Linked DNA regions of Homo sapiens. The gene in region 1 interacts genetically with each later gene. Each region holds a gene or a part of one and is shown on either strand. Other genes may lie near its edges.

What was found.
Region 2: changes in MMGT1 (region 1) and TRPC6 together harm fitness less than expected from each alone (positive genetic interaction), as found in Homo sapiens cells (one large-scale study listed by BioGRID).

What each region holds. Positions count from the first base shown.
Region 1 is NC_000023.11:135,959,250-135,965,145, reverse strand, and holds the end of MMGT1 (ER membrane protein complex subunit 5), read left to right. Parts: coding exon 1-122; 3' UTR 123-4,558; downstream 4,559-5,896. UniProt on the Homo sapiens protein: Part of the endoplasmic reticulum membrane protein complex (EMC) that enables the energy-independent insertion into endoplasmic reticulum membranes of newly synthesized membrane proteins.
Region 2 is NC_000011.10:101,502,997-101,508,491, reverse strand, and holds part of TRPC6 (short transient receptor potential channel 6), read left to right. Parts: intron 1-3,693; coding exon 3,694-4,468; intron 4,469-5,495. UniProt on the Homo sapiens protein: Forms a receptor-activated non-selective calcium permeant cation channel. Probably is operated by a phosphatidylinositol second messenger system activated by receptor tyrosine kinases or G-protein coupled receptors.

The DNA of each region.
Region 1 (5,896 bases):
TATTTAATCATCGTGGTCGAGTACTTTTCCGGCCTTCGGATACAGCAAATTCTTCAAACCAAGATGCATTGTCCTCTAACACATCATTGAAGTTACGAAAACTCGAATCACTGCGTCGTTAAGATTTTTACAAATTATAATAATAGGACAGGACACAGAGCTGGAATATTGGAGTTTGGGGTATAAAACACTCCTCCCTGCCCCCATTAGTATTTATATTGATCTTTCAGACCTACTTTAGTAAAAAAAACCATGGCCCTTGTTTATATACTGTTAATCCAATCATTAATGCAGTGTAAGTTATATGTGAAATGAGTCTTTGGTATTTCATATAGGAATTATTTTTTTTTTCATTTAAAACAAATCCACATCTTTTGTAAAAGCCACTGTTTTGAACACATTTCCTTGAAAAATGTTGGTGGTTTTTGTGATTATTTATTTTTTTAGATTTCTTTTCTTTTGCACTACAATTTTTGGAATCCTTTTGGAAATACTGTGTGACTGCTGTGTTTTGCAGCATGAATTATAGTAAAATGGTCTTCAATTCTTAACAAATGGACTTCCCTGATGAGACCAAAATGGTGATTTAACAGTTTTTCTTGTGTCCCCTAAAAAGTGGCTCTGCTTCAGAAGTACTTGCCAGTTTTTAATTTATTTGTGACTTTTCACCCTACCCTGCTCCCATATACCTTCTACCATCAGCTGTCTTGTTTCATCATTTCTCTGAGATTCTGTGTGCAGTGAGCAATTTTTGTGTCAGAAATTCTTTGTCAGAACAAATATATGTAACAGGCTCAACTTACTGTAAAGCTACTTGTGTTCTCTTCATTTGTCTGTAAAAATTTCCCTAATTGATTATATAGTGTAAGAATAGTTGAAGACTAGTTGAAGACCTTTTGTGATTTCATTATCATGCCTATGCAGAAGAAAAATCATTGAGGAAAATTGTCATTAGCCAGTTTAACTGATTCAAACTCTGTTTATTTCATACTAAACTAGTGAATAAGTGAAATAAAGGAAACTCGTCATTAATCTAAAGACAGAGTTCAAAGGAATTGGGCCAAATATATTCTCAGTATTTGGAACTAATGTTTTTAAGGTTTTTAGGAAAATCAGGTCATTTAAGAAATTGTTTTGTAGTTTCTGGTTTATAGCAGTCTTCAAGTTTTCCATCTTCACTGTATGTTGCTGAAAGTGAGGATGAGGATACAGAGTTGATATTTTTAGAAACAGTAATTTTACTTTTAAGGAAATTGGCTAGCTCTTTGAGCTAGAGAGCTGTAGGAAGCTCAACATTTCTTTGTAGAGAACGTTGCTTTTTTTGGATTGTACAGGTATAAAAACATTGCTTTTGTTGAATTGTATAGGTGTAAAAAGGGAATAACTGTATGCAGGTTTGAAAAGGAAATGTGCTTTAGGCATGAGTCATAAGATGCCATTGTACTTGTAGGCATTTTATTTTCCTTTAGAAATGGACATCAGCTCTTCTCTTCTGACTGGTAACACATAGCCCCAAAGCATGAGATTATTTTTCATTGGGTTTTTATTGTTGTTTAGTTTTGGTTTGTTACGCCAGCCCAGTCTGTCTGCGGAACACTGACTCTGCTCTCTAATGAGAACAAAGTTAGAAATCTGCCGATAACCTAAAATAATTTAGAAATGAATTAAAAATGTGAAATCGGGTTAAAGTGATGATGATAAAATAGCATGCAAGAAACAAGCTCCTTCCATCAGACTTGGCTACTGTTTTCTTCTGGTACGATTTGGTTTGGAAGAGCCTCTTGTTTCCTTCTCTTTGGGGTATGTCTTCGTTTCTTAATATGTTTGTAACATTATTGAGATATAATTCACATACCTTACAATTCACTTATTTTAAGGGTACAATTTAGTGGTTTTTAGTGTATTCACAAAGTTGTGTAACCGTGACCACAGTCAATTTTAGAACATTTCGTTACCCCAAAAAGAAACCCTGTACCCTTGAGCAGTCACCTCTCATTTTCTCCCAGTGCCCACCCCATCCCCGAGCCCCTGGCAACCACTAATCTATTTCTCTCTCTGTAGATTTGCTTATTCTGGTCATTTCATATAAATGGAATTCTACAATATTCGGTCTTTTGGGACTGGCTTCCCAAATATGATTTTCTATATGGAGTGAGAAAATTCTTCTCATCTTGAGAACTCTTATTGCTGTGAAAGGGAGTGGTTGGTAAAATCAATAGATTTCAGGCAAGAGGGCCAGATACCTAACAGGTTTTTCTCCGTGAATCTTATGCTGAGTAGTTTTTCCTCATAACCAAGCATTTATGATATATTACTACTTATAATACTGTGGCTAGTCTCTAGAATGGATGTTGAAATCTTTGCCTCCTCAGTCGGGAAGAGTCCTGCTAAAAATCAGGCTAAAAATCAGGCCAAAAATCAGGCCAAATGACTTGGCAAATAATTGACAAAGTGGTTTTCACGTGTGTCTATCTTTGCTAGCAGCTTGTATACCTCAGGCCAGGTGAGCTCCCCAAATTTCTTTTTTCATTTACTCCAGTGAGTTTCTGCTGTCTTTTTCAAGTATGTACCATAGGACTTAAAGGTGATTTGGATGCGTTGTAACACTGCTAAATATGCTAAGTACAGAATTTTATCTACAGTACTGTGAGACAGTCAATTATTGCCTAGGGTAGTTCAAAAATATGATGTGAGCTAGTTAAGCCTTTGCTTGACTGATTTCAGTGATATTCAGAAGTGTGTACCAATCAAGGCTCTTTAAAATACGGAACGACTCACTTAATAACCAGGGAACCAGCCAAATACTGTGCAGCCGCAGAATATGCATATCAATGAGTTGGAGGTGATTATTCTCTGTAACTCCCTAATGATTGTTTTCTAAGCATTGTGGCTTCTCAGTGGCTTGACAGCATCTTCCTGGTTGTATGTGGCCTGTTTACATGATGTATTGAATAATGTTGTTTGTTGTGAGCATCAATGCCTGTAACACCAAACTAAACACGTGTTTTTGGGATATGTTTCCAATCTTTAAATGACCTTGCCCTGTCCAATAAATAAATGATTGTCTCACCCTGTTTTTGGTAGTGTTTTTTGGGCTTTTTTTTTTTGGACTTTTAATCTCATTTCTTCTGCTTTTCTGTCCCCAGAAAAATGTAAGAGCTAATTTTATGACTGTATTTTTCTACTGTGATGCTGTTTTACTGAATTCAATGGATAATTTAATTGTACATGTAAAATCTTACTGCAGTTTTATGTTTTTAATAGTCAAAATAGAATGTATAATCTTGATGATGTTTATAAATCATCAAATGCCCTTTGGGGTGTAAAAATGGGTTCTTGAGCAGCAGTGTCTAATGATTCCATCACAAATTTGTTATAAAGCCAAACTCCCATTGAAAGTGTCACTTTATACTTAATAGGAAATCGTTATGATTAAAGCATCAAGGAAGCAAATATAAAGTTTAATGAAAATCCAAGGGGAAGTTCTAAATTGCAAAACTTGGCACTTATCTACAGTATTTTGAAAAATAACACCACCGGTATTCAAACCTACCTAGGAATATCTCAAAATAACCTGTTAATTAAGTGTTCTTAGAAAGGGGAGTGGGGGCAAGAAAGATGATGTATGCACATGGCGAAAAGATCAGATGGTACAGAAAGGTATAAAAACTTGGTCCCTTCCCTCCTACCCTAATACTCCTCTCCAAAAGTAACCAGTTTCAAGTGTCTTGTACTCACAGGAAAACAATTTTTTATTTTTTATCAGCAAATTTGTACTTTAAAAATTTCACATTAATAGAATCAGACTATATATACTCTTCTGTACCTTGCTTTTTTTGCTACCTGTGTTTTATGAGATCTTTCTGTATCAGTATATATAAAAATACCTCATTATTTTTAGCGGCTGTGTGGTATTCTAATGTTTGAATGTGTTACAAATGTTCAAACACTGATAGGCTCTTTAGGTTGTTTCCAATATTAAATCACATTGTGGTGAATATACTTGTACATATAATGAGTTTTTATTCTACAGTGTACCTAGCAATACAATTGCTGGATCAGAGGGTATTTTTTATTTTCAGTTCAGTAGTTACTGCCAAATTGTCCTCTAGAAATCTTTGCCCAGTATGCTTCCACATATAATGTATGAGAATGATTATTTACCAAACCCATGCCAATACTGGGTACTAAACTTTTGAAGTCTGATCATGTGAAAGTGAATAAATGGTATCTTGCGTTTTAATGAAGTTCTAATGCATTTTAATGAAGGTCTGGTACATTTTAATGAAGGAGATGGAACACATTTTCATGTTTATTGATTACTGATATTTCCTGTGAAATGTGTAGTCATGTTCTGTTTTCTATTAGGTGGTATGTGTTTTATTGATTTGTATGAGCTTTTTGTAAGCTAAGAAAATTGGTCCATTGTCATGTTTAATAATATTTTCCTAAGTTTTATTTATGTAGTTAAACTTAGTCTTTACAGCTTCTGAGATTTTGCCTTGCTTAGAAAGGCCACCTTTGCATTTAAGAATAAATTTAATGTATTTTTCCAGTATTTTAAAGGTTTTTTTTTCAACTTTTAAATCTTTGATTCATTTGGAATTTGTCTAGGTAGTAAGAGTGAGGAGAGGATTCAACATTTTTCTCTCCAATAGCAATCTATTCTAACCCCATTTATTAACTTTTTCAACACTGATTGGAAAAACCATCATCCTCATTCATACATCAAATTTCCATATGTCTGGTTAGATATGCTTCTGGGTTCTGTAGTCTGTTGCAAAAAATACGAGTCTTTTAATTATTTTAAATTGTTATATATTTTTGTCTTGGGTATTGCTAGTCCATACCTCATTTTTAGGAATTTTTTCTAGTTACTGCATGTTTATTTTTTTCAGATAAGCTTTCATATCATTTTGTCCAAATCTAAAATTATATTTTCCCTGAAATTTAATTTTGAAAAATTTCAAATCTACAGAAAATGTGAAAGAAAATAGGATGGACACCAGTATACTTTTCATTTAGGTTCACCATTTTTAACATTTTACCACTGTTGCTTTTGCTCTCTCCAGATGTGCTTTTCCTCCCCTCCTGATTCATTCGAGCTAAGTTGCAAACTTCATCATCACACTTCAGGACATCACTTAATATGTCAGCATGCCTTTCCTGCAAGAGGGAGGAGATTCTCCCATTTAACCACAATTCCATTATCACAGGTAAAAAAATGGATCAACCACCCAAAGTTTCATATTCATATTTCCCCATGTATCCCCTAAATAGCTTTTATAGCTGTCCCCACCAAGGTTCACAAATTACATTATTAGTGTGTCTCTGTAGTCTCTTTTCAAGTCTGTCTACCTCTTTTTTAAGCTGGTATTTTCTCTAGACAAACTTTATTTTCTTAGAACTGTTTTAGATTTATGGAGAAAATGGGAAGATAGTATAGAGAGTTCCCACATACTCCATACTCAATTTCCTCTATTAACATGTTAGCATGAGGCATTTGACACAATGAGCCAATGTCAATACATTATTATTAGTAGTAGTAGTATTGGTATTACTGGAATGCAATGGCGTGATCTCGGCCCACTGCAACCTCTGCCTCCCAGGTTCAAGCGATTCTCCTGCCTCAGCCACCCGAGTAGCTGGGAGTACAGGCATGCACCACCACGCCTGGTTAATTTTGTATTTTTAGTAGAGACGGGGTTTCTCTATGTTGGTCAGGTTGGTCTCAAACTCCTGACCTCAGGTGATCCACCTGTCTCGGCTTCCCAAAGTGCTGGGATTACAGGCGTGAGCCAACGTGCCTGGCCTAATACATTATTATTAACTAAAGTCCATACTTTATTCAGATTTCCTTTTTTTTTTTTGAGACAGAGTCTCTCTCTGTCACCCA
Region 2 (5,495 bases), on another chromosome or scaffold:
GTTTCCTCATGTAACAAACCTTGATGATCTCCTGTCTCTTCTACCTCATCCATCTTGTTAACTCAGAAATAATGTGATTCTTCTAGAAACTCACCGTAACTCAGACATCACCTTTTGCCAAAACCAACATTAGGCTCACTCTAGTTTTTATAAGGGGAAATTATACTCTCTTAGAAAAGACATTATAAGGAATATTTCTTTAAAAAGAAGCAAAGAATATCTACTAAGAATCACTAGCTATACGAGGAAAAATTCTACTATGAAATACAGAGACCAAAGCAAACAAACATAAAAAAGCAACTCAGGAGTAAGTTCTCTAAATTGTGATGTGTGCAATCTTTAACATCCCCAGAGAGAGAAGAAAAAATGTTTGTGCCTTTAAAAGCAGAAAAGTCTTATAAAAAGTAACATTTGAAAATAAAGGGTGTTTTTGAAAATTAAAAATATAATAGCAATTTTCATAGATATAATCTAAAGTTGAAGAAATTTCCCAGAATATAATAAATAATATTGAACATAAATAATTGGAAATAGAAAAGATAAGAAAATTAAAGGACAATTACAGGATGTCCAACATCAAAAAGAAGGAGTTCCAGAAATGGTACATTGAAAGCAGAAAACAAAATGATCAGATAAATAGGGCAAGACTATTTCTAAGAAAAGGACACTTTTTATTCCAGATTAAATGGGCAGCACTGTGGAGAAGAGACTCCCTTCAATAAACAACCATGTAATTTTAGGACACCAGAGACAAAGACAATATCCAGAATCAAAATTGCATCATGCTTCTCAATAGTAGCCACAAAACTATAATTTATTAGAGCAAGGCCTCCAAAATTATCCTCAACCTTGAATTCTCTACCCAGCCAAACTATCAGTTAAGTTTAGAGGTAGGACAAAGTCAGTTTTAGATGTACACGTTCTTTAAAAATTCACCTATGCATGCTTTATTAGACAGCTGTTGGAAGATGTGCTGTACTAGAACAAAGAAGTCAACTCAGATAAAAGAAGATCTGGGATACAGAAAACAAGGACCCCAATACAAAAGCAAAGTGAAGAGAATCCTTGGAATGATACCAAAGGAAGATTCAAAGAGAACATACATGCATCAAGTCTAGACAGCAACTGCTGTCTAGATTTTCCAAAATTGAAAAAAAAAAATACCCACTTAATATGTAGAATGTATTAAAATAAGACTTATATTGATGGAGAAGAGAGTTTGATTGAATTAGTCATATGTATATAGAGCACTGAGAAAATGAAGAGAATTTTTATCTATTAGGTTTAAGGTTATAGGGAAGCTGTACCTGAAAAGACACTATAGTATACCACTTAGCTATGATTAGCACTTGCATTGTCATGTTTTAAACAGTAAATAGTTATCTAAAAAAAAGTCATGATATAACAATTCTGGAATGATAAGGGACCATGAAGGGGGTCTGTGTGTGTGTGTGTGTGTGTGTGTGTGTGTGTGTGTGTGTGTGTTAGAGAGAGAGAGAGATACGTGAAGGTATGGTGTAATGGGAAGTCCATAGGTAATGCCAAACCTGAAAAATCAAGAAGTAACAATATAACCAAAGCTATGTGGTTATAACATTTAAAATTATAAAATAACCAGCTAAAATAGTTAAATTGAAATGTATCACCTCTGGAGATCAAGACATAGAATAAACTAAAATATGCACATGTATAACTTTACTAAAATTAAAAATGGAATTAAAAACAAAGTAATAGCTATGGGACAAAATAGTTACAGATGCTATTCTCTTATAATAAAAGTTGCATATGTATTATCTAATGACCCATTTTAGAAATTATTAGGTTGTATAACTTGATATCGGCCCTTCATGTCATTTTCGAAACTTACAAAGTTGTCTCTTTGAAAAAAACATCAGTTTGGTTGATTTTGAATAGGACTTGGATAGTTAAAGGAATCACTGTTGAATGAAAATCTATGAAAAATATTTGTCAATATGGTGGTATACTCTTCAAGCTCCTCCAAGAAGCAAAATCTGTTTGTGAGTTGCTGAAACTTTACTATCTTCCTTTCTATTCCTGTCCATCACACTGCCACAGACAGCACTGTCTGGAGATGTGGAATCAAGACTGATAAAGGCCAGTAGGGAAAGCAACTAAGATTCTCCAGACCTGAACATATTGGAGGGAAAGATAGCTTATGAGGCCCTTGGATCTTTTTATTGTCCTCTTTATACTGGGAAGTTTGTGACCGTTTTTAAAGAGGGATGCCTCTTTAGCCTCCCCTATAACCTGGCCCTGTTCCAGTTCTGCAAAAACATGCCTTCTTTGGGTTCAGTTAGTGATACTGGTAAGAGTTGAACCTCTAATTGTAATGAGATCCCTTGAAGCTCAAAAGACCTTAAGACACGAAGTTATGAATTAATAACGAAAAAATCTTCATTATAGCATTTTGATCAGAGGAAGAATCACAGCCCCCTTCCTTTTTTTTTTTTTTTTTCTTTGATATAGGATCTTGTTCTATCACCCAGGCTGGAGTGCAGAGGCATAGTCATGGCTCTCTGCAGCCTTGATCTCCTGGGTTCAATTGATACTCTACCTCAGCCTCCTGAGTAGCTGGGACTACAGGCATGTGCCACCATGCACCACTAATTTTTCTATTATTTGCAGAGATGGGGTTTTGCCATGTTGTCCAAGCTAGTCTTGACTTCCTGGGCAAGTGATTCGCCCACCTTGGCCCTGCAAGGTCCTGGGATTATAGGCGTGAGCCATAGCACCCGGCTCACTTTCCCTTCTTATCACAGATTGAAGGACTACGTTGAAGGCTGGCCACTGCTCTGACCACTGCCTGCACCATAGAAGTGTTTTTTCCTACCTGACAACTTGATTATAATTTTCTCCAGTCTGCAGTGATTTTTAGGACAGCAGAGTTCAAGCATTTATTGCCCATATTAATGAAACCTATACTCTAACATCTAGCCGATACCTCTGCTAGAGAAAACTTTCTACCTATACCTAACCCCTGTCTCACCCTCCTGAAGTACACTCTCACCTGACTTCTACTTATCCTTCCATTTTCAGCTTGTCATTTTCTCTCAGAATCTGGGATAGATGCCCCATTATAGGCTTATCATTATAATTAAGCAGCTGATAACAAAGCAGTATGCTGATTGCCCATCTCTCTCTTTGGTCTATAAGACTTGTAGAGGCAGGAAAAAGCATCTATTTGTTTTTTCACTATTGGCCTTCTTGGACCGAATATAGTTCCTAGACCTGGCATCAGAGGGACTCAATAAATATTTGTTAACTTGAGTGGATTTGCTATTGTCTCTACTTCTTAAAATGTAGTCTTATATTCTCTATCACATTGTGACTGCATATGGATAAGAGGGTATGGATATAGACATCTTTCCTAAGTCTATACCATCTATATAGTACATTAGTTTCTATCTGAATGGCACAGAGTAATTATGGCAATTGCTAGTCTCCACCCCAAATGGGAATGTTAAAATCTGCAAAGTGCTTGGCTTTCTTAGACGTGAAGTTCTTGGAATCCATTAACAAATAAATGCATCTTCATTTTATAATATAGTAGGTCTAGAGATGATGAGACAACATCTAATATACTTGAGGATTGTATTAGATGAATGGCAAGTCATTTGGCACACTAAAATGCTCTTAATGTGATTTGTTTACAATCTTTCTGTTTTATTGCAGCCGGGGATCTGACAACAGACTGGCTCACCGGCGGCAGACAGTTCTCCGTGAGAAGGGGAGAAGGTTAGCTAATCGAGGACCAGCATACATGTTTAGTGATCGCTCCACAAGCCTATCTATAGAGGAGGAACGCTTTTTGGATGCAGCTGAATATGGTAACATCCCAGTGGTGCGGAAGATGTTAGAAGAATGCCACTCACTCAACGTTAACTGTGTGGATTACATGGGCCAGAATGCCCTACAGTTGGCAGTGGCCAATGAGCATCTGGAAATTACAGAACTTCTTCTCAAGAAAGAAAACCTCTCTCGAGTTGGGGATGCTTTGCTTCTAGCTATTAGTAAAGGTTATGTTCGGATTGTGGAAGCAATTCTCAGTCATCCGGCTTTTGCTGAAGGCAAGAGGTTAGCAACCAGCCCTAGCCAGTCTGAACTCCAGCAAGATGATTTTTATGCCTATGATGAAGATGGGACACGGTTCTCCCATGATGTGACTCCAATCATTCTGGCTGCCCACTGCCAGGAATATGAAATTGTGCATACCCTCCTGCGGAAGGGTGCTAGGATTGAACGGCCTCATGATTATTTCTGCAAGTGCAATGACTGCAACCAGAAACAGAAGCATGACTCGTTTAGCCACTCCAGATCTAGGATTAATGCCTATAAAGGCCTGGCAAGTCCGGCTTACCTGTCATTGTCTAGTGAAGATCCAGTCATGACGGCTTTAGAACTTAGCAATGAACTGGCAGTTCTGGCCAATATTGAGAAAGAGTTCAAGGTAGGTCACTAACAATAGAGACTTCACCCTCCACAAGCCAGAGTCAAGGTGTATTTACCAGCTTCCCCCATGTGCTCAGCACTGTGCTAGTTACTGTGGACACTAGGTCATTTTATAAGTTTATTCAACAAGCTCTTTATTATAATCATTGTAGCAAAAGTTGTGATCGCTACCATTTAGTGATGCTCTACTGTCTGCCAGACATTTTGCATTTATTATATCTAATCTTTATCCGTTCCCCTTGAGAAGCTATTATTAGTTCCTGTCTAGATGGGTAAATGAAGGCATAGAAAGTTTCGCTAATGCCCAATATCAACAAATGGGAAATAACACAGCTGGGTTCAGAATCCAGGTATACTGCACTCTGAAAAGCCCAGGCTTTTTCCTCCCACGAAACACTATTTCCATGTTCAGAGCACAGTGATAGATGCTGTTGAGGTCAGAAAGAAGAATAAGCTTAAGGAAGTCACAGTTGACTAGAGAGACAAATGCACACATGAATAAAAAATAAACAAAACTACCAGGTAGAGGTAAAAGCAACATACTGTAGAAGTTCAGAGAAAACAATATTTAATTCCTGTTAGGCTGCAGGGAAGTATGTGTAAGATGGCATTTCAGCTGTATATGGTGGAACAAGTAGGATTTTGGAAGGCAGAGAATGAGGGAAAAGATATTTTAGGCCAAGGTGTACCAGCAAAAACAAAACATGATAGATATGAAATAGTAGGAAATTAGAACTTTGACCAGTCAATCTCTTAATAAGAGGTATCTGGAGAGATAAATGGTGTCAGATGCTGCCATTAACCATAAGGGCTGTGCTCCACGTGGAGAGGATGAAAGCTTGCATCCCTAGCTAAGATCTTCCCCACAGGTATCTCTAAACTCCCTCTACCTGTTTGAGGTAGTTCTGATCCTCTAATGCCCATCACCTTTTACCATGGATTATTGTTATTTATGATGCACTTATCTCCTTTACTAAATAATGCAGGTTGGAAACAGGTTTGATTCATCAAGTACAATGTTTTAC